Homo sapiens: one gene and its partner. The protein of the gene in region 1 purifies or fractionates together with the protein of each later gene. This does not show direct contact. Each region holds a gene or a part of one and is shown in the gene's direction. Other genes may lie near its edges. The genes, in order: PTCD3 and TBC1D2B.

Region 1 (9,824 bases):
CTCAAAAAGCTAGGTCTTAAAATTATGTGACCTAAAGACTCGGGTTCGCCAGGCGCGGTGGCTTACGCCTGTAATCCCAGCACTTTGGGAGGCCGAGGCGGGCGGATGATGAGGTCAGGAGATTGAGACCATCCTGGCTAACACGGTGAAACCCCGTCTCTACTAAAAATACAAAAAAATTAGCCGGATGTGGTGGGGGGTCGCCTGTAGTCCCAGCTACTCGGGAGGCTGAGGCAGGAGAATGGCGTGAACCCGGGAGACGGAGCTTGCAGTGAGCCGAGGTCGCGCCACTGCACTCCAGCCTGGGCGACAGAGCAAGACTCCATCTCAAAAAAAAAAAAAGACTTGGGTTCATTTAAAAAGACTTTTTTAAGAACTTTATTAATCTGAACTGTGTGATTATTTTAGGGAGGCCAGGGAGCCCAGTGATGTCAATGCATAGGTAACTGGGATCATAAAAGAAGTGCAAATTAAAACTTACCGTATTGGCAGAGAGAGGATTTGAAGAAATACGTTTGTTTATGGGACAGTAAATTGGAACAGCTCTTTGGAGGGAAATTTGGCAGAATCAGAATTGGAAATGTGCGTACCTTACTGGTTAGCCACTTTGGAGGAACATTTGCATATATACATGGACAAGACTGTTCTTTATTACTTGGGAATAGTAACAGGTTGAAACAGCCTGAATGCCCATTGAAAAGTGAATGGATAATTTTAAAAGGTTATCATACAATAACTTTTTACATTGAAAGGAATTAATTAGCTCTATATTTAATAACATGGATAGTGCAGCCAAACTTATGTAGACACATGCAGAATGACAGTGTGTATACGTTTTTTAGGGAGATGTTTATGTGTGAAAATACCTTTAAAAGTTCTGGAAATACAAATACCAAATTCATCGTGGAGAGGGGTCACAAGATGACACCAGACACTTTAGGTTAACGTGTAATGTTCTAGTTTATTTTTTTAAGATAATGTATGATACCTTTTAAAGTAACCCTTTAAAGAAAGAGAATTAGTGAGTAATCTGAATGTCATCATTTTTTCACTGCCATTTGTTCAATATGTTAGGAAAGTTTGCTAACTTGATAAGACTTAAATAGGGCAATAAAAGATCTGCTGAAGGAATGCTGACAGATGAGAGAATGTGTCGTTATCACACTTGCTGAAATTACATAAATGTGACTTCTAAACGTGGATAGAAAATTTAGTGGATATTATGTACATCAGGGAATTAGTTTTGATGAAATATAAAATTTCCTGTACTTTTGTTTTTCTCAGATGACTTATAGTCTTAAGAATGTTATGTTAAACTTTATTTAGAAAAATACTCTTGGTATAATTCCCTTTTGGAAAGGAAACACATTAAATCTAACATAGGAGCACAAATATATTTGAGATCAAATTATCTTGTCTGTCATTTATTCCAGTGAAGCCTTTTCTAATAGTTCAGTAAAGGTCTCTACTCAGAGGTGCAGTGGACAGCTGGCCTGCAATTCTTACCATAACGTTATATATGGTTGAGAGGTTCTAAACCAGGAGGTTGCATCAGAATTATCTGGGAATTCAGTAAGAGTGTGTGTGACAGTCCTCCATGGATCTTGGGAGGCTTTGATGCAATAGGTCCAGAGTGAAGCCTGTGGTTTATTCTCCTATAACTGAATCAAGAGCTACCAATTAGGATAGTAAAGGCAACAGTAGTCCCGAAAGCTGCAGTAAGAATCCATAGGAAAGTGGGTAGAGGAAGTAGGCCAGATAGTTTTATGAGGGCGGGATGGAAATCACTAGCCCTGGGTTATGGCATTATGCACCAGGCCAGAGAGGACAGGCAAAGAGAGGAACATGTACCAACTAGGGGAAAGAACCAGCAGTTTTCTTAATTTCTAATTTATTCTAGTGACCTTGTGACATAACCAGCTTCAGATGAGATCTGCACTATGTTATTGGCCAGTACACTGAGAGTAGAATCACTTGTTCGGTTTGTGGCTATGAAGAGCCCTGATGAGGATTAACTTGTGGTTCTTATTTTTAGGGATAAAGTAGCCGTTCTTCAGGCACTTGCATCCACAGTAAACAGGGTAAGTAGGATTTTGTGTTTTTTTTTAACCTAAAACTTGGCTAATAACACACTTTTTAACTCGGCTAATAACACATTTAATACTCATACCTCGTCATTACTCAGAATTAAACTGTTGTGCGTCTAGAAAGTTTCTTTAAAATTGTCTAGGCCGGGCGCGGTGGCTCACGCCTGTAATCCCAGCACTTTGGGAGGCCGAGGCAGGTGGATCACAAGGTCAGGAGATCGAGACCATCCTGGCTAACACAGTGAAACCCCGTCTCTACTGAAAATATAAAAAATTAGCCAGGCGTGGTGGCAGGCACCTGTAATCCCAGCTACTTGGGAGGCTGAGGCAGGAGAATGGCGTGAACCCAGGAGGCAGAGCTTGCAGTGAGGAGAGATCGCGCCACTGCACTCCAGCCTGGGCGAAAGAGCGAGACTCTGTCTCAAAAAAAAAAAAATTGTCTAATCCAGCTGAGCCAGGTGGCTCATGAATGTGATCCCAACACTTTTGGAGGCCAAAGTAGGAAGACCACTTGACATCAGGAGTTCAAAACCAGCTTGGGCAATGTAGCAAGACCCCCATCTGTTTTTTGTTTGTTTGTTTGTTTTGTTTTGTTTGAGACAGAGTTTTGCTCTTGTTGCCTTAGGCTGCAGTGCAATGGCGCGATCTCGGCTCACCGCAACCTCCACCTCCTGGGTTCAAGCAATTCTTCTGCCTCAGCCTCCTGAGTAGCTGGGATTACAGGCATGTGCCACCACGCCCAACTAATTTTGTATTTTAAGTAGAGACGGGGTTTCTCCATGTTGGTCAGGCTGGTCTCGAACTCCTGACCTCAGGTGATCCACTTGCCTTGGCCTCCCAAAGTGCTGGGATTACAGGTGTGAGCCACTGCGCCAAACTTTTTTTTTTTTTTTTTTTTAATTTATTTTTTGAGACGGAGTCTTGCTGTGTCGCCCAGGCTGAAGTGCAGTGGCACAGTCCCGGCTCACTGCAAGCTCTGCCTCCCAGGTTCATGCCATTCTCCTGTCTCAGCCTCCCGAGTAGCTGGGACTACAGGCGCCCGCCGCCACGCCTGGCTATTTTTTTGTATTTTTAGTAGAGACGGGGTTTCGCTGTGCTCACCAGGATGGTCTCCATCTCCTGACCTCCTGATCCACCCGCCTTGGCCTCCCAAAGTGCTGGGATTACAGATGTGAGCCACAGTGCCCGGCCTTTTTTTTTTTTTTTTAAGAATAAAATTATTGGCCAGGAGCAGTGGCTCACATCTGTAATCCCATCACTAATCCCATCACTTTGGGAGACCGAGGGAGGCTGATTGCTTGAGGTCAGGAGTTCGATACCAGCATGGTGAACATGGTGAAACCCTGTCTCTACCAAAACAACAAAAACAAAAATTACGAGGCATGGTGGCACCTGTAGTCCTACCTATTCAGGAGGCTGAGGCAAGAGAATCTCTTGAACCTGGGAGGCAGAAGTTGCAGTGAGCCAAGGTCCTGCCACTGCATTCCAGCCTGGGTGAGTTAGTGAGACTCTGTCTCAAAAAAAAAAAAAAAAAAAAAAATTTAAAATAAAATTATCAAATCCCTTTATTTGGCAAAGGAGGAAGCTAAGGTTTTGAAAGTGGCCAGTGGCTGGTTAGGATGTTAAAACCTTAATTAAAGGCTTAATTTCACGCCTTTTATCTCGAAATGCAGTGTTTTTCTACCATACCAGTGATCTTTAATCCCTGGAAGGGCTTGTTGAAATGTATGTTCTTAGGGGACGATTTGGCTGTAGTATACCAACTTGGAGAAATAATGTACCTGTCATGCTGACAATCATGTAATGATTAATAATCTGGGTCCTGGAGCCTACTGGTTTGTTTTAATAGCCAAGCAACTAGCTTTATGATCTTAGGGAAGTTACTTTACCTCTTGATACTTCTGTTTCCTGACTTATAAATTGGGGGTTAATTATAGCACCAAACCTCAAGGTTGCAGTGGAATTATTAACAAATGAATTAAGTATACGTAAGATTTAGGATAGAGTCTGGGACAAAGGAAATTCTTGGTACATTGTATTTTGTTACTGCTACTACTGTATTGTTGATTTCATTGACATGAAATTTTCTCTGTTGGCAACTCAAGAGTAGAGTTTGTAGTCTGGTAGATACACTGAAACTTTGGTAAATGCATCAGAAATGGAACTTTCTGCTTGGTTGTATTTTTTATTAACCAAAAACTTTTAATTTCGTCTGTGGGGAAAAGTCTAAAATAATTAAGTCTTTTTTTCTGCCACAGTATCTGTATGGATATTGATCCTCCTTAAGTCGATTATTACAAGTACGCAGAATTGTTCTTCTATTGTGGATATTAAACTACATCTAAAAATGGAACTACTAGGCTGGACATAGTGGCTCATGCCTGTAATCCCAGCAGTTTGGGAGGTCAAGGCGGGTGGATCCTGTGAGCTCGGGACTTTGAGATCAGTCTGGGCAACATGGTGAAACCCTGTCTCTACAAAAAAACACAAAAATTAGCTGAGCGTGGTAGTATGCGCCTGTAGTCCCAGCTACTTGGGAGGCTGAGGTGAGGCTCACTTGATCCTGGGAGGTGGAGGTGGAGGTTGCGGTGAGCCAGGATCGCACCACTGTACTCCACAGAGTGAGACCCTGTCCCCCCCGCCACACACAAAAAAATTAAATATAAAATAAAGATGGAGCTACTAAAGATAGTGTTGGGTCTAATGTGCACTGGTGTACTCTACCAGTTTCTGAAAAAGGACTTTACTACATCTCCCTACTTGCAAAGCATTGAGATTTTCAGTAGCTCACTTATCCATAAATAGGCACCTGAAATGTAAACATAGAAATGGACCTCCGAGATATTCTCAACATTTCAATGAGAATGGCCCAGGGCCACTTTCAAATCAAAGAAGTTATAGAATTGTGTGTAGAATTGTGACTTATCTGGCCCTTAAAATCCAAGAGTTATTCGTTTATCCATTCATTCAGCAACAATATTTTGTGCCCTTATGATGCTTATCAAGCACTGTGCTGGATATAGAATTAGACACAGATATTGTGTAGTTCTAGAGGGGAAGACTGAGGTAGCACTGAGAAGGGGTTGTATCGCCAAGACTGAGAAAGGAATTCTTTTTTTTCTTTCTTTTTTTTTTTTTAAAGAGACGGAGTCTCCCTCTGTCACCCAGGCTGGAGTGCAGTGGCGCAATCTCAGCTCACTGCAAGCTCTGCCTCCTGGGCTCACGCCATTCTCCTGCCTCAGCCTCCTGAGTAGCTGGGACTACAGGCGCCCCCACCCCCACGCCCGGCTAATTTTTGTATTTTTAGTAGAGACGGAGTTTCACTGTGTTAGCCAGGATGGGGGTAAAGGAATTCTAAGCAGACATTTTAGAAAAGAGAGCTATGTGGAGAATGGGAAAGCTTTCCACTTGAGAGTGTGATAAAGAGCTTAGCATATCCAAAACCAAACCCCATTCCCTCCAAACATTCCTCACATATTTCTTTGCCATCTCATTAATGGCAACTCCATTCTTATAGCTGCTCAGGCCAAAATCCTGGGAATTGTTAGCAAAGCCTTTGTTTATCCCTTCAAAAGATACGTGTGTGTGAGGTCTCCGTGACCACTCCCAGGCTAAGAGTTATGACAGCAAGAAGATACAAAGCAAAGTCAGCAAAGAGAAAAGGCTCATTGGATAAAGACCAAAAGAAATCAGTCACAAGCTTCCAAAAGACCTCTCCAGAAGATTCAACACAGGACATGCTTAATTCCTCCATCAGTGACTTGTGACAACACATGCAAAGTGTCTACCAAAGCTCATTAGAGACCCAGTGCCCAGAGTTTTTAGGGGAGGCTGGCCATGTAGACCACCCACTGGCTGGCATATATTATACCAAGTTTCCATACTCCCAGAAGGGAAGCAGGTGTTTGGCACAAAACACGTTGTACAAACAGGTTAGGCACAGTGAACCATTCTTAGCAGTTCTAGGAATGGTGAGAACCCTTCCAATATCCAGGTTCCCAGATGGCAGCCAAGGGCCAGCCTTGGACGCAGACCTTCCTAAGGATAATGGTTTCAGGTCTGTTAACTCTTTTCTGCAAAATATCAAAATTTTAGATGCCTGATATCACTACCAGTCACCTTGGTTATTGTCGTCTTACAAGTCTGGATTAATTGCAGCAGTCTCTGTCGTCTCCCACTGCACCTCCCTGCACACTGCTCTCAGTTCAGCAGCTGTAGTGACCCTGGATCATATCACTCTTAAGAATTCAACATTGGCTTTCCATTAGTATAATTCAAATAAAAACTGAAGTTCACAACAGGGCTGCTAAGGTGAGGCTCAAGGGAAAGGGGTTTTTGAAAGGGGTAGCAGAAAGCTAGGTCCAAAATAAAACACTGCCTCCAGGTTCCAGGTATGAGCAGCTTTCCGTTGAGAGCTGCAGGGAAGCTTCTGTGCCCCCTCCCTGAGGAGTCCAGGTCAGTAAAACAGCATTAAGGATATAGGATAAGTTTTTGCTTTGGAATAAAGGCCCAAGTAAGGCACTCAGACACAGAAGAGAATAAAGAAAGCAATTCTGGGGCATTTCTCAGTGGGGCCCCTGGTGGTATTGGAGAGTTGATTATGCTCAGGTTTAGGGAGCAATTTTAATGGGTAACAGGACGTGGGAGAAGGTTCTGTTGTTCATTCCTCAGAGGGCACGGTGATATCTTCCATTTGGAGGAGGGACTCTTGGTGAAGTTGAGCGTGGGTGGATAGTGACCTTGCTTTGGAGGAAATCCTATTCTGGGATTCTGCTGTTAGGACTAGTTAATTCAGATGATTCTTACCTAGAGTTTAAAACAGTCCCCAGTGGTAGCAAACTTAAATATTAAAATCAGCCATGGGGAGGGAGGCTTAAGCCATTGCTTGCCTTGCATAATTAAAGGCAAGTCTTGTAGAGCTGAGAGTACAGTGCAGGTGTTTGTCTTTTGTCTTTTTTCTCTATATATACATGTATATATGCCCACACACGTTTGCGCATTTAGGTTACATACATAATTACAACTTACGGAATTTTTGTTTATCAAAACTCACAAGGTCCTCTTAAAAATTTAGCTAGAAAGACTTGTGGGCTGGATACAGTGGCTCACGTCTATAATCCTAGCCCTTTGTAAGGCAGAAGTGAGAGAACTGCTTGAGGCCAGGAGTTTGAGACCAGCTTGGGTGACACAGCAAGACACCCTCTCTGCAAAAAATTTTGTGAAATGGCCAGCTGTGGTGGCACACACCTGTAGCCTAGGCTACTTGGGAGGCTGAGGCAGGAGAATCCCTTGAGTCCAGGAGCTAAAAGTTACAGTGAGCTGTCTTCAAAATAAATATAGAAATTGTATTATGTCTTTTCCACAGGATACCACAGCTGTGCCTTATGTGTTTCAAGATGATCCTTACCTTATGCCAGCATCATCTTTGGAATCTGTGAGTATTTTCATATAATTTTCTAGTGTTTTATCTCTCTGGTTTGCGTACAACAGTACATAAATAATTTAGTTGTAATAACCTGGGAAAGGTTTACAAATGCTGAGAAATTGATAGACTATGTGAATCCTTTACTACTTTCTTCAAAAAGATGTACATATCGTCAATGGGGAAAGGATTTTTGGTTTTGGTTTCTAATACTTAGGGCTTTTTCACACTGGAGTGACCCACTCAGTTTAAATGGCTTGCTTTTTATATATTTCAAGCTGTGTATAAGATGCTAACTGAAATTATATCACAGTAGAAAAGGTGGGATAGTCTATAATTTCTAATTGGGATTCTGCGTGTTGTTGCATTTGTTTTTTTTTGTGAGGGGGGAGAAATTCTTGCTGAGAGTGTAACTATAATCTTGCTTGAGTTTAAATTACATGTATTTAAATCTTTTTCTTTATATAGCGTTCATTTTTACTGGCAAAGAAATCCGGGGAGAATGTGGCCAAGTTTATTATTAATTCATACCCCAAATATTTTCAGAAGGACATAGCTGAACCTCATATACCGGTAAGGAGAGGTAGTTACATTATTTACATAATACTATTTTAAATGTAAATTAAACCAGGCTTTCATGGCTAATATTTCAGTAGCTATTTGAATACCCTCAATATTTGGATGATAAGCCTTTTAAAGTGTGGAGTTAGCTTTGATCACAAGACTAACTTTAAAATTCTTTCTGTATTTATTTGCTCTTCATCTTAATATTTTCCCCATTTGATTTTTGTGACACCATGCTCTTAGGTCTTTAATTCTATGACTGAAGTTTCCTTCACTACCTCTCTATACACATCTTTCTCTTCCTTTTTTTTTTTTTTGAAACGGCATCATGCTGTCACCCAGGCTGGAGTGCAATGGTACAATCATAGCTCATTGCAGCCTGGAACCCCTGGGCTCAAGTGATCCTCTTGCCTCAGCCTCACAAGTAGCTTGGACTACAGGGGTGTGCCACCATGCCTGGCTGATTTTTTTTAATTTTTAGTTTTTGTAGAGAACAGGGTCTTGTCTCACTGCACTGCCCAGGCTGGTCTCAAATTTCTGGGCTCAAGCAAACACCCTTCTCAGCCTCTGCAATCTCTGGGATTGCAGGTGTAAGCCACTGCTGCTTGCTCTTGATCCGCTTCTTTTTTTGTTTGTTTTTGTTTGAGATGGAGTCTCACTCTGTTGCCCAGGCTGGAGTGCAGTGGCACGATCTTGGCTCACTGCAGCCTCTGCCGCCCGGGTTCAAGCAATTCTCCTGCCTCAGCCTCCTGAGCAGCTGGGATTACAGGTGCCTGCCACCGCACCTGGCTAATTTTTATAGTTTTAGTAGAGACGGGGTTTTACCATCTTGGCCAGGCTGGTCTTGAACTCCTGACCTCGTGATCCACCCGACTTGGCCTCCCAAAGTCCTGGGATTACAGGTGTGAGCCACCGTGTCCGGCCTTGATCCACTTCTTAAGCATGGGTATCTTTCTTAGATTTTTATGCTCATTTTCTCTTTTTATTGTGTATACTCTTCTGTTTCAGTGACGCTTATAATCCATTTGGTACTCTTTTGTATATCTAGCCTAGATCCCTTTACTTTGAACTCCACATTGTATTTCCAGCTCCCTCTTTGTTCTGTAGTTTTGGAGTGAGGATTTATGCAGTGTGGTGGGTATTGTGCTTAGTGCTTGTCCATACAGTGGTGAGCAAAACAGATGCGCCTCTGCCCTCCTGAGTTTGTTGGTGGAAGTACTAATCTCAGACTCATCATATCTAAACTGCTCCCATATCCCTACATCTCTCTGCTTCCCAAAGCTCACAGGGAAACACACACTTCTTGTTTTCATAGTAGAACTTGCACATAGATGAGGAAGCCAGTGTGATTGTGTAAGTCAAAATATTAAAATCCTAAACTAAGACAGTGTCTTTCTCCATTAGATTGTGAGCACCCTGAAGGTAGAGAATGCCTTTCGTCTCTGTATCCCCAGTGCCAAGCTTAATGTCTGGGGTAAAATAGTAGGCATTCAGAAAGTATTTGAATAAGTTAGTGAATGAGGTAAAATCAGCATACCTTGGGTAGTATTAAATGTTTAGATGATACACAGCATTAGAGATGAAAGGTTTAGTTCAATTCCCTGTGAAGACAGTGATGTTAAAATGATCAGTAGTATCTGGTGCAGGAAACATGAATTGGAGCAGTGAAGTTTTACTTTGGTATGTTGGTGATAAAAGTTTTGTCCTACTCAGTTATCCTTCCCTCACCTTTACCTGTTTGTAGTAACTTT
Region 2 (16,366 bases), on another chromosome or scaffold:
ATTAAGTGTAAGAATAAATACATCCATGAAACACATTCTCGAAAGTGGAATCGCTGAATCAAAGGGTATTTGCAGTTGTCATTTTAGCAGATGATGCCAAATTGCTTTCGTTAAGCGTTGTATTGATTTATGGCTCAGTAAATACTGAATAAATGAATGAATAATATTTTCAATTTCAGTCATTTTGAGGCCCCCAGCATGCAGGAAAAACCAGCGGAGAGGGCTATGGCTGGTCCAGAGAAGTCACCAATGTTATCGTGATCCTTTTGGTCCCTCAAGGCCACTGAGTGACTTCGTCTTGCCATCTTTCTACATGGCTGCTGGTTGGGGAGGGCAGTGTCCAGAGAGGTCCCCCTCAGCCCTTCTCCCACCAAACACAGGTGGTTCTATTTTATCCTTAGGACAATGGCCAGGTACTGGGCTGGGAACTTTCCAAGGGCCTATAAAAAGATCTGAGACCTGGAAGAAACAAACAAACAAACAACCAGTATTGGCTCCAAAATTCAAAAGGAGAAAAATGCAAAATCACAATGAATAAATGTATAAGTAAATGTCTATACTATGTAATATTGCATCAGCTTCATTTCGTATTCATAAAAGTTTCATCACATCTGAAAATGGTTTGGAGGCCAGATTATCTTAGCTCACAAAAATCCTCAAGTGTGCAAGAAGACTGCCAAGAAATCATTACCAATTGCAAGTGAAATGAATTCCTCAAGGCCAAATCATTTCAAAAGCAAAATCATAAGAATAATCCTTTCCAAAAAGCTTAAAGCAAAAGACATATATATTTTTATTGTAAAATATGGCCATGCCATTTAAAAATTACATATATTTGATAGTAGTGAGATGGAGACTCCAAAGGTGAGAGTGCCCTGGACCTACCACGGTCTTAAAAACATTGCCAACCTCATCTGCGCCATAAAGCACCCATCTGGGGGGCTCTGGGCCTGTAGTCTCTGCTCCTGACAGCCCAGAGCGGAAAACCACCCCTTAGATCAGAGAGGCTCCCTTGTCAGTGTACCTCTCAGTTTCAGCAGCAAGAACAAGACGCAAGTTAATTTTGCTATAGATAATCCAGACTCACTAGTGAGTATTTCTGAGTCCCATGTAAAAGTGAAATTCTTCAGAGTTGCTTGCTGTTTGCTCATGACAGCTGGAGAAGGGACGAGATTTTGGGATCAGTTTAGGGACCATAGGGAAGACAAGGGGCCAAGGACCATAATTTTGAGAACCCTCATTCTACAGCCTTTTGGAGGCCAGATGGCCACCGTGGGGCCCAGCTGCAGAGACCTGGTACACCTAGCAACTTGGGCAGCTGGGGCCCCTGGGCTTGCTCCTCAATTTAGTCCTATCCCTGTCTCCCTTCCCCTCACTTTACAGCTGGGAAAACAGAGGTCCTCCGTAGATTCCTAATGATTTTGAGCCCTTACCAGGTGCCAAGTACTTCACATACACACATACATGATTTCCTTTCATCTTTATAGCAGGTATACAAGGTAGCATTACTGTCCCCATTTTTTCCCATTATAAAGACAGGGACACTGAAACTCAAGAATGGAAATGGCCTGTCCAAGACAAGGAGTAAGTCCATGGCAGGGCCAAGTCGAGAATCTCGTACCCCATCCTCCTCCCCTATACATGCTGCATCCTCCTCCCATGCCATTGCTCCAGCCATTTTCCCTGCTACCCAAATTCTTTAAATACTTTAAAAATGCATTAATTCAAAATTAATAGTCAATGTAGTCAAACTTCCAAATAAGAAACACATTTAAAAACATTCCTCCCACTCCAGAATCTACTTCTTCTGGGTCTTTTCTGTGCCTGTCTTCATGTATCCTGACTGCCTTCTTCCCGCTTCCCTCTTCATTGCTTTGCTCACATAAGTACGCCGTAAACTCCTTTCGTAGACCCCTTCGCCCAACCAGAAGAATGCCTGAACTTCCACCATCAGAACAGCATCTCTTTAAGCTGTCAGTTAAAATGCCCCACCTTCCAGACTTGGCCTCAAAGTAGGTTTTAGTCCCTGCTGCTTGTGTGGGAAGGGTGGAAGTGTCCGAGATCAGATTTGGCTGAGTGATGGGGGCACTGGGAAGGGGACAGCATGAGGGCCTCTAGGAAGCAGAAAGGTGAAGGCAGAGGGGACTACGCTGTGCTGGGCCGGGCGCCAGGCCCTGGGAACAGGGTGGTAACAGGAAGGACACAAGGCCTCTGCAGCTGCGGCCCATTGCCTCCTCAGGGTCTAGTGCTCCCCTGCTCCTGGGGCAGTGTGACTCTCCCTGTCTCCCATGCTGGGCTTGACTGCCTGGTACCAAGCCCCTGCCAACCCTCTACCCTCTATCAGCTCCCAGAGACACCCAGACCTCCATCTGTCTGAGCCTCGGTCCCCTGGCCCCAGGGCTGGGAGATTGGCCAGCACCTCAGATTTGTTCCCTCTCAGAAAAAGAGCCAGGAGGTATGCAAATTTGACTGCCAATTTGGTAGGGAAATGAGGCCTACTGGAAGCCAGAGTCCACAGTCCAAGATGGTCTGAGAGCCCTGGGCTCCCTTGCTGGGGCTGTTCTCTCTGAGGCTGTCCCACCTGACAAAACTGAGAGCTTCCTGCAGTGGGGCCAGGCCTAGTCTTGTGGTGAGTTTTCAGCACCACCCATCACCAGCCAGAGGCAAAGAGCAGGAGCCAGGGATGTTTGTTAAATGAATTAGTTACCAAACTGAGACTTGTTGTACGTCAGCGACTGTGTCCAGTGTTTTGCATTTACTGGCTCATTTAAGCCCCTAGCAGCTCTAAGGGGTAAATGTTATTATGCCCCATTGTACAGATGAGGAATCTGAGGCACAGAGAGGCTGGGAGATTGGCCCAAGCGCCCATAGTTCCTTATTTATTTACTTAGAGACAGGGTCTCACTTTGTCACCCAGGCTGGAGTGCAGTGGCGCAATCTCAGCTCGCTGCAACCTTGACTTCCTGGGCTCAAGCAATCCTCCTGCCTCAGACCCCCAAGTAGCTGGGACTATAGGCATGCACCACCATGCCCAGCTAATTTTTTGTAGAGATGGGGTTTTGCCATGTTGCCCAGACTGGTCTCAAACTCCTGAGCTCAAGTGATCCACTCGCCTCAGCCTCTCAAAGTGCTAGGATTACAGGTGTGAGCCATCAGGCCCAGCCCCCTTCTTTATTTTGAAACCACTCCCCCACCACCCTACCCCTGCCCCAGTACCCCCAACAACCTCCCACCAGGGCAGTAGGCTTGGTGCAGGGTGCCCCCTTTCAGAGCTTTGCGGACATACCTGGAAAGCCCTCTCTCTGGTCTGGGGTCTCCCTGTGGCAGCTGTGTGCTCTGGTCAAAGCATCCTCTGCTCTGAGGATGGGCTTGCTCTTCTCTGCCCTGCCCCTAGCCCTCCAGCGCTCGGCCCATTCACAGCTCCAGTCCCCCAACCTTCTTCACCCACCCCATCCCCTCCTCATCAGGCCAACTTCCTTCACAAGGACCTACGAGGATAGCATTGTCCAACCCCCAAGTAACACAGCTATCTCTGCTTCTGTCTGCCTCAGGGACACAAGGCCTTCATTTGTGCCCCGGATGGGGGTGACGATTAGGGCTGCTTCTCCTTCAGGGCCCAGGGTCATAGGATGCAAAAGTGTCACCTCAAAGGGGTCATGTTTGCACCAACTGCAGTGGGCAGCCAAGCCTGTAGATGGAGTGGAGCCCTGAGGGGATGGGGCAGCTTGGTTGTGATGGCTGCAACAGTCCAGAGGGCTTTGAGCAGTGGGACTGAAAAGAGCATAGCCTCCACTGGCCTGCAGAGCTGTGGGAAGAATGACTGCAGGCCCTCACAGCTGTGTCTCAGGCCACTGTTGTGTTTCTGAGCAGGCAGGGGCAGGCCTTTGGACATCACTTAGCCATCCGTCTCCTTGTTGTGCAGGTGGAAAACTGCAGCCCAGAGAGGGCAGGGACATGCCCTGGGGCATACAGCATACAGGTGATAAGGCTGTTTTCCTCTCTGGGCCTCCTGCAGATCTGTGCACTCCTCCAACGGGAGGTCAGCATCTCGGCCAGCTCTGTCTCCCTGGAGTCTGACAGCTACAAAGGCAGTGTGCAGTGAGTGCTTCTTCAGAGGCCTCTGGGCACATGCTACCAACTCTGGGGAGACTGACCTAGGATGAGTCACTGGCTCTGTGTTCCCCTAGGGTTTTCCCAGAGGCTGGCCATGTAGGAGCAAGTTTACTGCCCAAATTTCCCCTTTTCAGTAAACACCAGCTACTTCCTCCTGGGTGGTTACTTCCTTCTGGTCACTGGGTTCCTGGACGGCTCGAGGAAGCAGGGGCTTACATGGGCATGCAGGGCAGACCCCTCAACACCTCTCATGCCTGTACTAGATGCAGGGAAGGTACACAGGCTGTATAAAGCTGGCCCTGACCACAGGACATCACTGTTTAATCTAAGAGACCTCAGGAACTGCAGATGTCAACAAACCATTTACGAAGGGTTTCAGGGAATTAGGAGCCACCAGAGACAGCCCCAACATTTCCATGTAGGAGGCCCTTGGGAAGAACTGAAGCTATATCTATTTACATAAACTATAAACATTGTCCAGACTGAAGATGGAGGTACTAAGAGAGATGAGATAAAGCCCCATTGCCTAGTTCTCCTCAGCTCATGGCCCTAGGAATGAGGGGAGAAGGGTTTGTTCACGAAATAAAAAGCATTTCAGCAGGGTCTTGAGAGAGTCAGTGGGGAAGAGGGGCCTGGGGGAGGTCTAGAGAGTCAAGAGGGTTTTAGGGTTGATTCTGGAGGCTCTAGGGATCCTTGGAAGGCTTGGGCCACTTCCTAAGCCTGGTCGGGTAGACAGAGACTCAGGGCCCTCCAGGGGACCCTCCTGAGACATTGCTGTTGGCTTTGAGGCCTCCATACTTTACCACTCTCACTGGGGACTCAGGCCTGTGTCTGTGCAGCCTCCTCAGAGGGCCATATTCTGGACCCGGCCAGACCGAGGCAGGGGCCAGGCCAGTTTATCCCCTAATATACTAAAAAGCTCAGTGCCTGGGCCTGCCTGCTTGAGAGGCCTGTGAAATGTTTGTGGCCTAAGAAAAATGTATTGGCTCTAAAACCCAAGAAAAACAGCAAAATTAGAATTAATGAACATCTAATTAAATGTCTACAAATGTAACATGTCACCTTTATAGTCATCATAAAAATGTCATAACAGAGCTGGGCACCTTGGCTCATGCCTTAATCCCAGCACTCTGGGAGGCCAAGGTGGGAGGATCACTTGAGACCAGGAGTTTGAGACCAGCCTGGGCAACATAGCAGAGACCTATCTCTACAAAAAATACAAAAATTAGCTGAGCGTGGTGCTGCGCACACCTGTGGTTCCAGCTACTCAGGAGGCTGAGGTGGGAGGATTGCCTGAGCCCAGGAGGGGGAGGTTGCAGTGAGTTGAGGTAGCGTCACCGCACTCCAGCCTGGGTGACACAATGAGACCCATCTCCAAAAAAAAAAAAAAAAAAAAGGTCATTACATTTGAGAACAATTTCTAGGTTAGGTTTCTCTCACTTGGCCAAAATTCCCACACAGACACGATGATTGCCAAGAAATCAGCCAATTAAAAATGAAAATGAAAACTCATAATTAGATAATATCAAGAGCACAATTATGGATATTCCTGAAAACATTTTCATAGCAAAAATTATGTATATGTTTACTACGGGATGTAGAGCATTTTAATATGTTTGATATGATGTCAGGTGTGGCCTCCAGAAGGAAGAGGGCAGTGGCTTACAAGCATTTTATTTATTTTTATTATTATTATTATTTTGAGACAGAGCCTTGCTCTGTTACCCAGGCTGGAGTGCAGTGGCACGATCTTGGTTCACTGCAACCTCCTCCTCCCAGACTCAAGCGATTCTCCTGCCTCGGCCTCCTGAGTAGCTGGGATTACAGGCACGTGCCACCGTGCCTGGCTCATTTTTGTATTTTTAGTAGAGATTGGTTTTCACCATGTTGCCCAGGCAGGTCTCAAACTCCTGACCTTGTGATCTGCCCTCCTTGGCCTCCCAAAGTGCTGGGATTACAGGCGTGAGCCACCACACTCAGCCCTGCAAGCATTTTAAAATGGCCCCAGCTCATCTGTGCTGGGTGACCAGGGAAGGATTGGAGGCTCAGGTGTAGGGGAGTCAGGCTGAAGTCCAGCTTGCCCACTGAGGGGCACAGACAGCAGGTACGGTTCTGCATGCCAGGCCCTGGCGGATACAGCAGTGAACAAACCAATCATTCTCCTACCCTCGTGGAGATTATATTCTAGTAAGGCAGGGAGGTGACACACAAGAAAGCAGATAAAAGTAATGTGTGCTATGTTGTATAAATGCCGTGATGACATGTAGATGATTACCGCTTAAAACAGCACCCCTGTCCCGTCCCATCTGCCTAGCCCTGGCCAGCCAGCCCAGACTCTTAGTCCAGGAGGGGGGCTCGTGGCTTGTGCCTGTGAAGGATGCCTTCCTCGGGCCTAGCAGACATCGGCCCCCGTGAGACACCTCATGGGGCTTGGTCCTGTCCACTGGGACCACAGGTCATGGCCACCCCCACTTCCTTATAACTTACTGATAGATCTAGGAGAGATGGGCTACACCCTCCCCTGTCCTGTTGCCTCCCTGTACCATGGCAATACAGACCGGGTTCTCCCAGCTCTTCCCTTTCCCACAGTATTTCAAGGTCAGACCTCACCCTGACTGCCTACCCCACAAGCCAATTAGTCACAGCCCCTTTTACATACATGGTGAGGCCCAAATTGAACTTGGGACCCCTTGCTCCCGAGAGCAGCCCACTCCACTCCCGCAGCACCGCAGTGTCTGGCCTCCCTTGTCTGGGCCCGGTCTGACTGTTGGATTCCCCCTCTCCGAATCTGCTGACTGATGAGGAAGACATCGGTGTTAACTGCAAGATGATAATAATAACAGCTGATATGTGCTGAGTGCTTACTATGTGTGAGGCACCGTGCTAAGCACTTTCATATGCATTTCTCACGTAACCCTTTCAATAACAACAGCACGAGATAGCTACTTGTATTTATCAACCCTGTTTTATAAATGAAGAGACTGAGGCCCAGAGAGGTTAAATCACTTGCCCAAGGTCATGCCTCTGGTAAGTGGCAGAGCTAGGAGACACATCTGGTCAGTGTGAAGTCAGAGCCCAGTCCTTAACACTGTGCTGATTGTGCTCAAAGACAGGTGGAGAGGTCAGCCACACCTCTGATGGGCCCCAGGAAAGGAATGCTTGCGTGGTGCCACTTTAGGGCCTGCAGAGAGTCGGCAGGCTGGGTGAGGACCCAGAACCTGCCCTTCCTACCTGGGTGGCTCCAAACAGGCAGTCTAATTTGTGTCCCTGTCCAGCTCAGAAAGGTCAGTTTTCCACCTGGGTCTTTCAGTGTGTCTGTATAAAACATGCAAATCTATGAGGGTGAGATATTTGGTTTGGGCTTTCACAAATGTAGCTATGTAGCTATACACTTCCTTTTTCCTTTGAATAAAGTGAGCTCTTGTACTCACTATTCCCTCTCCCTGGAATGCTTCACCCACATTTCTGGTTGCCCCTGTCCCTCCCATCATCTGGGTTTGTGCTCCATGTCACAGGATCAGACCAGCCTCCTTGCCTGTCCTGGGGCAGCAGCCTGCTATCTGCCCCCCATCACTTCATCCTCTCACTTTGCTTTTTACTTATTTTTTATTCTTGTGGGAACATAGTAGGTGTATATATTTATGGGTTACATGAGATATTTTAATACAGGCATGCAATGCATAATAATCAAATCAGGGTAAGTAAGGTATCCATCACCTCAAGCATTTATCCTTTGTGTTACAAACAATCCTATTATACTTTTTTTTTTCTTTTTAGACAGAGTTTTGCTCTTGTTGCCCAGGCTGGAGTGCAATGGCGCAACCTCGGCTCACTGCAACCTCCACCTCCGGGGTTCAAGAGATTCTCTTGCTTCAGCCTCCCGAGTAGCTGGGATTACAGGCATGCACCACCACGCCCAGCTAATTTTGTATTTTTAGTAGAGACAGGGTTTCTTCATGTTGGTCAGGCTGGTCTCGAACTCCCGACCTCAGGTGATCCACCCACCTCGGCCTCCCAAACTGCTGGGATTACAGGCGTGAACCACCGCGTCTGTATTATACTCTTTTGGTTATTTTTAAACGTACAATTATATTATTTTTGACTGTAGTCACCCTGTTGTGCTAGCAAATACTTGGTCTTATTCATTCTTTCTCTTTGCTTTATTACAAAGCAATAGATTTGCCTTCTCAGGTTGTGAGTGTTCAAATAAGTTAGTCTATAAAGCACTGATAAATACTAGGTGCTATTTTAAGCGGTAATCATTTACATGTCATCACGGCATTTATACAACATAGCACACATTACTTTTATCTGCTTTCTTGTGTGTCACCTCCCTGCCTTACTAGAATATAACCTCCACGAGGGCAGGAGAATGATTGGTTTGTTCACTGCTGTATCCGCCAGGGCCTGGCATACAGAACCGTACCCGGCATTCAGAAGGCGCTCAATAAATATATGTTGAATTCAATAAATGAACTGAGGTCTGGAGAGGCAGGAAACGCTTTGGCTTTCATGAATTCTGCAAATATTTACTGAGCACCCACTCAGCACCAGGCAATAGGCTGTCTCATTTTTACAATATTAGCTTGAGACTCTGGCAGGAGGGAGATTTAAATATCAAGTTTTTAGAATAAGATACACAGTGTGAAATGCAGTTTTAAGCGGACACTCCGCTGGGTTTTGAGAGATGCACACTCCCATGTACCTACACTGCCATAAAGAAATAGACCATTGCTTCATCCGGCAGGGCGAGGACTTGGAGCCCAGGTGGCACGAAGGCAACTGACCCGCGGGGTGCTGGTCGCAGGACCCTGCCTCCGGGGGCTGAGGGGGCAACGGCCGGCGGGCGGGCGGGGGCGAGACTACAAGTCCCAGGGTGCTTTGCGCGCCCGCGGGCCGTGCGGAGCGAAGGGGCGGTGCGGAGGGGGTAGGGGGCGCAGCGGCCGCGGCGCGGAGGCGCAGGGCGCGGGCGCCTACGGTTGGCGCGCGGTAGCGATGCCGGGGGCCGGAGCCCGGGCGGAGGAGGGCGGCGGCGGCGGCGAGGGCGCGGCGCAGGGGGCGGCCGCGGAGCCCGGGGCGGGTCCGGCGCGGGAGCCAGCGCGGCTGTGTGGCTATCTGCAGAAGCTGTCGGGCAAGGGCCCCCTGCGTGGCTACCGCAGCCGCTGGTTCGTGTTCGACGCGCGCCGCTGCTACCTTTACTATTTCAAGAGTCCGCAGGACGCGCTGCCCCTCGGCCACTTGGACATCGCGGACGCCTGCTTCAGCTACCAGGGCCCCGACGAGGCGGCGGAGCCGGGCACGGAGCCGCCCGCGCACTTCCAGGTGCACAGCGCGGGAGCCGTCACGGTGCTCAAGGTGGGACCGCTCGCCCCAAAGCCGCCCGCGCGCTTCCGCCGGCGTCCCCTGCCTCCGCCACTGGCTTGCGCCATCCACCCTCCTTCCTCCAAGGCCTCCTCGCCCCTGCCCACGTCGGCCTGCCTTTCCCTGCTTCTCCACATCCCGCCCTCGTTCCTATCTCCTCCCCACTATCTGGGCTTAGGCCAGTCTCGCTGGGGCTACCAAGCCCCGTCTCCTTTCTCAGACACCTTGACCCATTATCTCCCTCTGCGCCTAACCTCGGGCCAGTCTCTGGTGTCTCCCGACCCCCACCATCCCGTGGATGTCCTGTGCAGCCTTCCCAGGCATCCGTGAGCGTAGGCTTCTACCCCTGGGGCCTCCTTTAGAACTTTGCCTATGGCCTTGGTACCTCAGTGAACCGCTCTGGGCTGCAGCGGCCTCCTCTGTAAAATGGGATAACAGTAGTATCTACCTCATGGGGTGTTGGGATTAAATGAATTATACTTTAAACTGCTCAGTAAATGTCAGTGCTTTTATTTATTTGTTTATTTATTCTTTTTGAGACAGGATCTTGTTCTGTTGTCCAGGCTGGAGTGCAGGGGTGCGATCTCGGCTCACTGCAGCCTCCATGCCTGGGCTCAAGAGATCCTCCCACCTCAGCCTCCCAAGTAGCTGGGACCACAGGTGCGGGCCACCACGCCTGGCTAATTAAATTTTTTTTTTTTTTTAAAGAAACGGGGGTCTCACTATGTTGCCCAGGCTAGTCTCGAACTCCTGGGCCGAAACCATCCTCCCCATCCAGCTTCCCAAAGTGCTGGGATGCCAGGCGTGAGCCAGAGTGCATTTAGCACTGTAGACAGAAAGAGTCAGATGGCAGGGCCCTTAGAGACAGTCCACTACATTTTCCTCCAGAGTGGACGGGGATGCTCCAGCTAAGGTCACACAGCCAGTAGGTGGCAGATCCTGTGTTCTTCCTCCTTGCTTTGTCCAGGATGGGTGGGAGGGGGTCTTTTCAGCCAGTTATGCCTTGCTCCTTTGAGGCTCCCTTAATCCTCCAGTGGACAGACAAAATGAGAGATACAGTGTAGAAGCAGGAGAGTAGAGTCAGGAGTCCTGGTGCTGAAAGGCCTCCCCTGTCCTTGGGAGTTCTGGGGGACTAGACTGTCACCTCCTAGGGGCCCACCTGCTTTGAGCATCTGGAGGGATCTGGGCCCAGGCCTGGAGCTGGGTATCCTTTTTCCAGGCTTTGCTCCCTGCCTGGTTTCTGTGAGTCTCCACCCTCACTCTCACTCCTCTTCCGTATTCCAGGTTGGGCTTTCTCCAGAGCAACAGGGTTGGGCTGGGATGTATGAAAGTGCTCTCAAAGCTGGCCACACGGAGAGCAGACTAGGCAAACTCCTGGCCTTGTGAGCTGAGGACTGTTCCTCAGACCCCCAGAGCTGCTAACAGCTGGAGCTGCTCCCTGGAGATGTTCTTAGAGCTTTGCTGACTCAGCTTTTGCCAGTTCAAGCAGGATCTGATTCCCATGTTCTCTTGGGCTCCCCTGTCCTGTCTGTAAGTGGGTGCAGACAGCCTGTTTCCCCAAAGAAAACCAACTCGGGTTGCAGTCCTACACAGGCTTACTTAGAGAGTGCCTGTATAAACTTGGTAATGACCCTAGTGGGAGACCTTTGCCAAAGGCAGAGGCTCTTCCTCAGTGTACATACGGGCTGTCCCTGTGTCGGACGAATTTCCTGTGGGATGTTTGTTAAAGAAAATAGAGCATCGTGTTTCACATTTTTCCCAGATGACTGTAGAACTCTATCAGTTTTTTTCATTAAAATAATCTGAATCTCCTGTAATCCCAGCACTTTGGGAGGCCGAGACGGGTGGATCACGAGGTCAGGAGCTCGAGACCATCCTGGCTAACACGGTGACACCCCATGTCTATTAAATATACAAAAAATTAGCCAGGCATGGTGGCGGGTGCCTGTAGTCCCAGTTATTCGGGAGGCTGAGGCAGGAGAATGGCGTGAACCCGGGAGGAAGAGCTTGCAGTGAGCAGAGATCGCGCCACTGCACTCAGCCTGGGTGACAGAGTGAGACTCCATCTCAAAAAAAATTAAAAAAAAAATAATAAATAAGAATCTACATAAGCAGGGTTACAAGGCGCATTGTCAGAAGTGTGGCTTTAAACTTCGATGGACTTGAACTTGAAGCAGGAGTCTGCTGCTCACACATATTGGACAAATTACACCAGTTCCCTGCTCCAGTTTCCTCTTTGGTCTAGTGGGAATCATACCTTCCTCATTAGGTGGCTGTGAGGATTCTGGAGAATGTTATGGAAAATGGCTGGCGCATTTTCCATAGTGGTATGGAAAATAGTAGGCACTACATGGCATATGAAACATCAAGCAGTGTCTTTGGCCAAATATGTAGTGTATTCATATAGTGGAATATTATGCAGTAGTAAACAAAGGTACTAGAGCTATAGGTGTCAACGTGGATTACTCTCACAAACAATAAAATTGAACAAGAAGTAAGTTACACACTGATTGTGTTCAGAATGATACCACTTATAGAAAGGTTAGGAAGATCATGTGAAACAGTACTACAGATCATAAGGATGTATGCTCTTTCGCGAGGGGAAGAGCTTTATGGGGCTGATGAGCTCTGGTTTCCAGGTAGTGGTTGCCTGTGATGGGAAGAGGGAGGATGTGATTGGGAATGGGTGCCTCAGGGCTTCTCCTGTTTTGCAGTGTTTTATTTCTTGGACTGGGTCATAGGTATATCAGTGTTTGTCCTATTATGCTATCCATCTTTTTGTAGGTTCAGAATATTTCTTTTTTTAAAGAAAGGAAATACATTTTCCTTTGGGTTACTGACAATGGAGGAATATTTTGACATGTAAAATTAAATTGGTCACAGAATAAGATAGTACCGAGTGTTGGCTGTATACAACAATGGGAATGGAAATCAGGCAAGGCTTTCTGGAAGAAGGGAGGAGAAGGCCGGGCGTGGTGGCTCATGCCTGTAATCCCAGCACTTTGGGAGGCCGAGGCGAGTGGATCACTTGAGGTCAGGAGTTCGAGACCAGCCTGGCCAATATGGTGAAACCCCATCTCTACTAAAAATACAAAAATTGGCTGGGCATGGTGGCGCACGCTGTAGTCCCAGCTGCTCGCGAGGCTGAGGCAGGAGAATTGCATGAACCCGGGAGGCGGAGGTTGCAGTGAGCCGAGATCACACCACTGCACTCCAGCCTGAGCGACAGAGTGAGACTCCACCTTAAAAACAAACAAACAAACAAACAAACAAGCAAAAAACACCCCGACTCTAAAACCCTGCTCCCTTTTTTTTTTTGAAACAGAGTCTTGCTGTGTCGCCCAGGCTGGAGTGCAGTGGCACAGTCTCTGCTAACTGCAACCTCTGGCTCCCGGGTTCAAGCAATTCTCCTGCCTCAGCCTTCCGAGCTGAGGGACTATAGGCGCGTGCCACCGCTCCCAGCTAATTTTTGTATTTTTAGTAGAGACGGGGTTTCACCATATTGGCCAGGCTGGTCTCGAACTCCTGACCTCGTGATCCACCTGCCTCTGCCTCTCAAAGTGCTGGGGTTACAGATATGAGCCACCGCACCCAGCCAGGCGTGTGTTTTAAGAAAATTAAATTTCATTGTACAGTTATTTCTTTTGAGCTGTAGGAGTAAAATCTTTATGGTGTAAGTATGGAAATTACCAATTTATCTTCCTTTTCGTCTTTCAAATGCAAGAACTGATTCCCTTAAGCCTTAATGTTTCACTTTAGGGCTGCCCAGCCATAGAGGAGACCCTGATTTCTAAGGATTTTAAGTTAGGATTTAGCCCTGCTCAGACTTCAGCTAGTGGTATATAATTTTACAAATACCATTTCTTATCACAGAGGGTTAAAAAGTAAAGAAAAATCAGCACTTTTCTTATTCTATTATCATATGTTTTTCTTATTTAAAAGTGTCTTTCAGCTCTCTCTGGAGAAGCTGTGGTTTTGTTGGGCTTTTTCAAAATGTTTTTCTATGTAAGTCTTAATGAAAGCTGATATAGGAATTTCTTGGGAAACTCCTCTATTCCCAAACTTAGGGATTTGATCTGGTGCCTTATGAGGTAATAGAGGCTAGAGAGGGGATGTGATTTTGCCAACATCATGAAGCTAGACTCAGACCCTCTCTGAAAGTAGAGGCTCCAGGAATAGTGAATGTCTAAAATGTGTAGTATCTAATTGTATTGTCTGTTCTGACAAGTCTGCTTTTTTTTGACTTTGTTGGGGATCGGATAAGGCGTAGTAGTAGTCTTTCCTTCTATTGCATTTAATATCTGTCCTTTTTGGATAGTGGGTATCACAAGGGAACATTTTACTGCCCAGTTCTTTACCAGGATGCCTAGTACCTTTTGCTGGACATGTCTGGAAACTGCTGCAAGGGTCTAGCAGAGGCTGATGCTTCCTGTGTGCGTCTCTCTCTGTGTGTAGGGGTGCTGGAGGCTTCTCACAGAGCTTTACTGGAATCTGAGGCACTTAGGGGAAGGAGAGCATGTGACTGACCGAGGGTGAAGCTTAAACAGCCTTGATCTTCCAGATCTCTGCAGACTTTGGAGCAAGAGAGCGTCATCAGACCGTCAGCAAATGAATTCCTCCCTCCGTAGGTGCTTGGTGCTAAATAGACATGTGTACTGGTTTCTGAGCCACACGTAACTGAATAGCTGTGTACCCCTATTCTTAACCACTTTTGTGGGAATGCACATTCCCTGGTGTTGAAATTTCTCTTAATGACAAACATTTGTCGGCTTGGGTAATCATATTGTTTTCAGTGCAAAATAGATGTGGTGAACCAGCCTCCTTTGCTGTTTGGTTCTTCTAAGCTGTTCTGCCCTAGGGCATCTGCTCAGTCTTGAAGCATTATTTAACTCTTTAAGTTATGGGAATTTAACTTTTCATGGCTTTCCAATTAGTAAGTTCCTTCAAGGCAAGTCCAGTATTGTGCTTGTGATATCACAGTGGCATTCCGTCTCCCTCTCCCACTGCCTCACACAGTCCTCATTGCAGGGGAGTCTCCATCCTATTTCCTGCTAACCAGAGGGTAAGCTCCCTAAGGACTGTGTGTATCCTCAGCTCCTGCAACAGTATCTGGCACAAAGGAGACATGCTATAAACTAGTGTTTGTGTTCCTGAAAAATTCGTATGTTGAAGTGCCAGCTCCCAGTGTGATGATATTTAGAGGTGGGGCCTTTGGGAGGTAATTAACTCATGAGGGTGGAGCCTTCACGAATGGGATTAGTGCCTTTATAAAAAGAGACCCTGGAGAGATGATCTCCCCTTCCACCTATGAGGATACAGCAAAAAGGCATTCCTTTGCAAACCAGGAAGAGGGCCCCCGCCAGGAACCAAATTGACCAGCACCTTGATTTTGGACATTCCAGCCTTCAGAACTGAGTAAATTTCTGTTGTTTAAGCCACTTAGTCTGTGGTGTTTTTGTTATAACAGCCTGAACCGACTAAGGTAAGGTGCCCAGGTAGACATTTGTTGCATGAATGAATAGAAAATGGTCACCCAGTAAGCACTGGTTTTGGTGTGAGCCCTGACCCTTTAGAAGTGATCAGCCAGAACTCCCAAATATACAGGTGTATTACATGCCATTCTTGCCTCATGTCATGGAGGTGGCAGCCATTCAGTGAATGCCCACTGAATTTAACAGACATCAGGAATCCAAAAGGGGGTTATGACTCACCCTTCCCCAGAGGAGAGAGCTTACAGTCAGTTCCATATTTTCGGGTCTCATATATTTCATGCCCATGGTCAGGACTCCAAGGACACTGTTATAGCAGAGGCAAACTTTTTATGTAAAGGGCCACATACTATTTTAGGTTTTGCGCACTCTGCCATATCTGTCACTATGCTGTTGTAGTACAGAAACAACCACAGAATGAGTATAGCTGTGTTTTAACTTTTAGTTATGGACTCTGAAATTTGGATTTCATATAATTTTCACATTTCGCAAAATATTCTTTTGATTTTTTTCAACCATTTAAAAATGTTAGCTGGGCACAGTGGCTCACTCCTGTAATCCCAGCACTTTGGGAGGCCGAAATGGGAGGATCACTTGATACCAATAGTTCGAGACCAGCCTAGGCAACAAAGTGAGACCCTATCCCTACAAAAATTAAAAAAAACTAGCCAGGTGTGGCTGGATGTGGTGGCTCACGCCTGTAATCCCAGCACTTTGGGAAGCCGAGGTGGGTGGATCACTTGAGGTCAGGAGTTTGAGACCAGCCTGACCAGCATGGTGAGACCCTGTCTCTACTAAAAATACAAAATTAGCTGGGTGTGGTGGCGGATGCCTGTAATCCCAGCTGCTTGGGAGGCTGAGGCAGGAGAATTGCTTGAACCCAGGAAACAGAGGTTGCAGCAAGCTGAGGTGGCGCCATTGCACTCCAGCCTGGGCGACAAGAGCGAAACTCTGTCTCAAAACAAAAAACAAACTAGCCAGGCATGATGGCACATGTCTTTAGTCCCAGCTACTTGGGAGGCTGAGGCAGGAGGACTGCTTGATCCCAGGAGGTGGACATTGCAGTGAGCTGTGTTTGCTCCACTGTACTCCAGCCTGGGTGACAGAGGGAGACCCTGTTTCAAAAAAATAAAATAGCAAAATAAAAATGTTAAAACTGCCCTTGCCTTGTAGATTGTACAGAAATAGGCAGAGACTGGAAATGACCGCAGGCTGTAGTTCACTGACTTGTGTTCTAGGAAGGCCTCAGGAGCTTCCCACTCATTCACTCACTGTGTGTGCTTAGGCACTGGGGATATGACTGGACAAGACAAACAGTCCCTGTCCTCCTGGAGCTTTCAGTAGGTGGGGGGGACAGACGTTAATAAAATATAACAAACACCAACCAGTGCTAGGAAGTTTGA

What was found.
Region 2: the proteins of PTCD3 (region 1) and TBC1D2B purify together in Homo sapiens (affinity purification with mass spectrometry; 2 studies listed by BioGRID and IntAct, with this or other methods). This does not show direct contact.

The regions. Positions count from the first base shown.
Region 1 is NC_000002.12:86,109,078-86,118,901, forward strand, and holds part of PTCD3 (small ribosomal subunit protein mS39 precursor), read left to right. Parts: intron 1-2,035; coding exon 2,036-2,081; intron 2,082-7,452; coding exon 7,453-7,521; intron 7,522-7,977; coding exon 7,978-8,082; intron 8,083-9,824. UniProt on the Homo sapiens protein: Mitochondrial RNA-binding protein that has a role in mitochondrial translation.
Region 2 is NC_000015.10:78,070,395-78,086,760, reverse strand, and holds the start of TBC1D2B (TBC1 domain family member 2B), read left to right. Parts: upstream 1-9,049; 5' UTR 9,050-9,108; coding exon 9,109-9,468; intron 9,469-16,366. UniProt on the Homo sapiens protein: GTPase-activating protein that plays a role in the early steps of endocytosis.